2 separate regions of the Homo sapiens genome follow, and region 1 is linked to region 2. The links come from fine-mapping of genetic effects on gene expression. A gene starts in region 2. The other region holds a variant in brackets. All regions are shown on one strand. Distances are between the middles of the regions.

Region 1 (2,902 bases), 850 kb before region 2:
TTGATGTGGAAGGTGCTATTCCCATTTTCAAAGAAAGGCACTGAGGCCATAGGCTTTGGGCTGCCTGTGCTTGGCAGGGGCGAAAAGGAGGAGAGTACCCTCCTGCCTGTCACATAATGGGCCTCTGACCTGCCTGTGCCCAAGAAAGGTTCAGAGGGGATAGGTTTGGGGTCTGGGGTCCTGATCAGGCCAGCTGGCAGAGAATGGCAGGGAAGGGGCCTAGAAGTTCCAACTCCCTGGCAGGTGGCCTCAGTAGCCTCAACAAGGTCTGACCCACACCCAGAGGTGCCTGTCACTGTTTGTGTTACTTGCTTTGGGACCTTGAGTAAATCATTTTATTCCCCTGGGCCTTCTGTTTTCTGAACTCCAAAAAGCTAAATGTGATCTTCAAGGCCCTGCTTCTGGCTTAGGCATTGCAGATTTCTAAGTGTGGTGTATTAGCTTACTATTGCTGCTGTAACAAAAAACCATAGACCAGGGGATTTAAAATTGATCAGCTGACAGTTCTGTAGTCAGAAGTCTGACACAGCTCTACCGGGCTGAAATCGAGGCAGAGCCACATTCCTTCTGGAGGCTGCGGGGGAGAAGAATCTGTCTCTGGGCCTTTTCCATCTTCTAGAGGCTGCCTATTTCCTTGATTCACAGACACTGAATCTTCTGCCTCCCTTTTCCACTTTTAAAGGTCCTTGTATTCCATTGGCCCACCCAGATCATCCAGGGTGATCTCCCCTGTCTTAAAGTCAGCGGTGAGACACCTTCACTCCATCTGCACCCTCATTTCCCTTTGCCATAAGCTGACATATTCACAGGCTCTGGGGGTTTGGATGTGGGTGTCTTTGTGCAGCCATTATTCTGCCTTCCACACCTGGAAACTGAGACATTTCTGAGAGGCCTTGGGCAAGCTGTCTCCCCTTTTTGGACCCAGTTTTTTCTCTTCTGTGAAATGGTGTGGCTGCTTTGAAAACAAAGTGAGAGGATGAGTGTTCAGGTGGGTTACAAAGGGTCAAGCGCCATACATGGGGTTAATTCTTTATTCCTGGGGTATTTCTATTGCCAGCAATGGCAGCTGGCAGCCTCTCACCGGGCCCTCATGCCTTCCTATGCCTTGTTCTGAAAAGCTGCAGCCCCCACCCCCGCCCCACTAGACCCCCAGAAAACAAACGTGGGTCTGTGTACCGCTCCTGCTCATTATAATCTCTTGCTTCTTTTCACAAAACCCCAGGGGCCCCTGGGATTTGGGAGCTGGGGGATGTCACTCAAGGATGCCTATTGAGTGCTAAACAATGGCCCCCTCATGAGGTCATAGGGCCGCTTAGCAACCACCCAGGCCCTTAGTAACGGGCCCAGAAGTGTTGATATTTACCCAACAGAAACTTTGGATTATCTCGATAACACCCAGTTCCTTCCAGAGAGCTGCAGGCACTAAAAGCAAGCTCCACCCACTCCGAGCTGCTGCTCTGGCTCTTCCAAGAGCAGGCCTATGGAGGGGCAGGGAGTCCTGGGTTTCCCCCC[CA/A]GCTCTGCAATCCTCTGAGGGCCTCAGTTTCCCCCACAACATGGGGATCAGACTAAATAAGTACTAAATATTTAAGTAGTATGACTGTATGTCCCTGCTGGCCCAGAACAGTTCCATTTTATCAAGACTATTAAAAGAGGCGTTTTCATTCTCAAGAGTTGGAACATCAACCTTCTGGTCACCCACCTCTAAAAGGCCACTTCCAGCCCTCAATCCCATTGTTCTTCCCCTCCACCCTCTTTCCCAGTCTGAATTAATCCTGAATAGTTTCACCTAGCTTTTTCAAGGTCCCTCTCTGTGTCAGGCATGGAACAGGGCGCTGAGGAAACTGAGGCAAACCAGACGTGGTCCCTGCTTTCAGGAGCTTCCAGTCCGGGAAAGAACACCGCTTAAACACTCTGCAGAAATCTAGGTCTGAATCTAGAACCTTGCAATTCTCAGACTTATTTGTGTTGTCTTCACTAAGCTATTTTAGTAAATAATAATACTCCATAGAATTCCGGTGGCATTTTGCAGTTTCTAAAGCATTTCTGTTATGTTCCCTCATTTAACCCTGACATCATCTGAAGGTGTGATTTTAATATATTCCCATTGCACAGATGGGGAACTGGAGGCTGGAGGCCATAGAGGACAGAGCAGTTGGATGCCCTTGAGGAGCAATTCAATCTCTGCCTCCTTGCCTTCGAAATGGAGATGTTAGCTCCCACTTCATAGAACTGTTATGGAAAGTAAATGAGACAGCACATAGAAAGTCCTTTGGAAAGTGACAGCTGCCTAAAATGAGTGTTTCTGCCCTGAGCTGTCTGTGGCCTCAGCAGTTGCACTTCCTGGATGTTCTCCAGTTCACCTGCTTCTCACATGCCCACAGACACCCATTTGTAAATTTCCTGACCCATTTTTGAGCACAGGGAACACATCTTGGTTGGAACCCCAGCTCTGCCTCAGGGCAGCACTGTGGCCTCGGGCAACTTCTAGCCTCAGTTTCTTCATTTGTAAGAGGAGATAAGAACAAGTCATCCTGAGGATGGAAGGAAGCAAATAACATAAAAGCAGTGCTGAGGGGAGCCAACCCAGCACATAGCTGTTGCTCACAAATGGGAGGTTCTGGATTGCCTTTCTGATGTTAAGTATGTGAGAAGACTTTGAACGTGTTTGTGTGAGAGGGAGCTATGGAGGGCAGCACCCACAAGATGGGATTTTTCCCTCACCCCAGGAGCCAGGCCAGCACTCACTTTGGGCGGAAGGCAGGACGCTGCCACCTTCTCTAAGGTTGGCTTCCAGCCACGTTGCAGCAAGGGGGTTCGGCTGACGAAAGCTGTTCCCTCTGTGCCCCACTCACCTTGCAGGAGGAGAAGGGCCCCCTCTTCCCCTTTTCTTTACAGAGTAGCT
Region 2 (2,902 bases):
GTGGGTTGGGGGCCTGAAGAAGATGGGGTCTGGGTCGAGGGTTGGGAGGAGTTCTGAGAGTCGTTGAACACATCTAAGTGCCTCCTGTGCGCTCCGCCAACCCTCGAGGAAACGTTTGCTCACCGGTTTGGAGATGTTGGTTTTGGAGTCCACGTTGTACCTGGGAAAAGAGTGGAACCGGTGTGGGGTGGGGCTGGGTGGGGGAGAGGGTGGAAAGGGGTCGGGCACCGAGTCTTGGTGAAAATTTTGGGTGGAGGGATGGGCGGCCGTGGACCCGAATTCAGCTTTGGTCTCCTTTTGGGGAGGAGTCAGGGTGGGCTGAGTAGTCAGACGGTCAAGCCTGGGCCGAGGCCAAGTCAGGGGCTGCTGGGGGCAGGGTTGTGTGGAAGGGGTCGGGCCTGAGGTGGAGCTGCGATAGGAGCAGAGTTGTGGGCGGGGCCAGAGCGGGGGACGGAACTGGACCGCATCTCATAAAAGGGCAGGGCTCAGGCTAGAGGGGGCCATTCAGAATGGGAGGGAGGCCTGCGAGAAGAACCAGGCCGGAGGCGAGGCGGGGGTGGGGCCAGCCAGAATTCCGGGCGGATCCAGGTCGGGGGCGGGCCAAGCCAGAATTCCAGGCGGGGCCTCACACATCGAAGCGCAGATTTTGCTTTTCCTCAAAGAAATAGTCGAGGACGAATTTGCGCACGAAGTCTGGGTTCAGCGTGTTATCAATCACCTCGGTCCGTCCGAACTGGGTAGGGGGGTGGAGGGTCAGCGTGGGACGTGCAGACGGGCAGGGGAATTCCCGGGCGACGCCCTGGGCCGGGAGGGGGCTCTGGGACTCACCTCCCGCCACTCCTGGCTGGCCCGGCTCTGCGTGTAAAGCACCACCACTGCAGGTGGGGGCGGGGAGGGAAGGACGTCAGGTCGGCTCCCACCCCTGGCCCCGACTCCACCCGCCCCTGAGTCGCGCCCAGACCCCAAGTTCCCCCTCCCGGTCCTGGAGCCGCCTACTGGGGTCGGACTTGGAGAAGGTATCAAGGTCTAGCAGGTTCCTAGAGAAAAGCAACAGACAGACAGAGTGGATCATCCTGGAGTCCGCCCGCCTCGAGTCGGCTCTGAGCCGGGCACTGAGGAGAGGCATGGGGCCCGCATCGAACCTCTGTCCCCCATGGCTACCCCCAGCCGGGGTCCGCTCTGTCAGCACTCTGGACAGCACCGGAAATCGCTGTCCAGGAACCATGGCTCTGCGGACTGGACGCGAACGCACCCACACTGTCTCCAAGGGCCCAGGAAAGAGGGCTCGCCCCAGAACTTTGTCCTCCTGGGGCCGAGCTCCTACCGGATATCTGCGACCCACCCCCTGAACCCGCAGGCTGAGCCCTTTTTTCGGGGTGGGGCTGCCCAAGACCCCCCGCTTCTCGATCCCACCAGCTACTCGCCCTGTCATCAGCTGTGATTTTCCAGCCAATTTCGCCTCTCCCCGGGGGTCTAGCCCCTGCCCAGGCTGAGCCCCGCGGCTGGCTGGGGCTGGGGCAGTGCCAGTGCCTAAGCCCTCCCCAGCGCGGCCCGCTCACCGGCAGGACACGGTAATTTCAATCTTGGTGGCCGGGACGCTGCGCTCGGAGGCTCCGCCGAGAGACATGGCTGGTCGGGCGACCAGAGCCGCAGGAGGCTGCGAGACCAGGGCTGCTGGGGCTAGGGGCGACGGCAGCGGCGGGGCCGGCCCATGTGCCGCGGTGTCGGCGGCGGCGGCGGCTGCACTCGCTCCAGCCCTGCGTGCGCTCCAGCCGCTCGCGCCCTGACAGTGGCCGCCGGCGGCAGCGGCTCCAGATGGCAGCACAGCCCCGCCCGGCCCTGCGGGCGGCCCCCGCCCCATTGGAGCAGCCTGGAGCCAGCGGGGAACCTCACCCCGACTCCCAACTCCAACCCACACCTTGGTAGAGTCTGCCCTGCGCAAGTCTCTGGGGTGGAAACCCAAGCCCCCTAGAGTTGTCCATGATGCTGAAACATTTGGGGCACCTGGTGGGCACTGGAATTGTTGCCTCTTACTGAGCCACTCCCTTAGTGTTTCTGTCTTTTCCCACTCCCAGCCTGCCTAGGTCTCTGAATAGGAAAAGTACATCTCTTAGTAGCTGTGTGACCTTGGACAAGTTACTCAACATCTCTGTGGCTCAACCGTGAAAGGCCGTCAGAAAGGCCTTTAACAGCAGCTACTTTAGGTGCTGTAAAATTTTACTGAGATAACCCAAGGAAAACACTTAGCACACAGCAAGTGCTCAGTAAACATTCACTGGTATTTATGATTTGTCCTCTGGGTATTCACAATGATGACAGTAAATGGTGGCTGTTGAGCACCGTGCAAAGCTGTCTGCCCATGCCTTTAACCCTCACGACTTTCATGGCGTTACAGATGCGGACACACTCTCATGACGCAATCTACTGTAGGTTACACTGTAGAAGAGGGTGGTGGTCAGCCAGGCTCTCACCCACCACACATGCACACCAATTGCTATCTCCAAAGCTTCAGAAGCCAGTCCTTCCTCCATAGGCAGGGCTCAAGGTAGGGGATGCAGGTCACCCGTACCAGGACCCTGCTGCCTACAGAACTTGTTAAAGATGAAGATCCTGGTCAGGTACGGTGGCTCATGCCTGTAATCCCAGCACTTTAGGAGGCCAAGGCAGGCAGATCACTTGAGCTCAGGAGTTTGAGACTGGCCTGGCCAACATGGTGAAACCCCATCTCTACTAAATACAAAAATTAGCTGGGGATGGTGGCACGTTCACGTAGCTACTCAGGAGACTGAGGCAGGAGGATCGCTTGAACCCAGGAGGCAGGGGTTGCAGTGAGCCAAGATTGTGCCATTGCACTCCAGCTTGGGTAACAGTGAGACTCCATCTCAAAAAATCTGAAAAAAAT

Evidence for each region. PIP is the estimated chance that this variant, and not a neighbour inherited with it, causes the effect. A credible set is the group of variants that fine-mapping cannot tell apart.
Region 1: its variant is the best candidate, but not a certain one, in a credible set for the expression of CPNE9 in monocytes (TOPMed, PIP 0.65).

What each region holds. Positions count from the first base shown.
Region 1 is chr3:10,552,253-10,555,154 of GRCh38, reverse strand. It overlaps a transcript of ATP2B2 not described here. Among named protein-coding and RNA genes, the nearest start is that of ATP2B2-IT1, 17 kb to the left of the region's middle. RefSeq lists a silencer at 1,176-1,470. The variant CA/A (reference allele first, on the strand shown) is at 1,513.
Region 2 is chr3:9,702,722-9,705,623 of GRCh38, reverse strand. CPNE9 (copine family member 9) reads right to left here and starts at 1,791. Exons shown (of 21, transcript NM_153635.3): 1 at 1,560-1,791; 2 at 997-1,037; 3 at 829-875; 4 at 630-733; 5 at 124-160. The coding sequence starts at 1,627. RefSeq lists an enhancer at 1,242-2,152.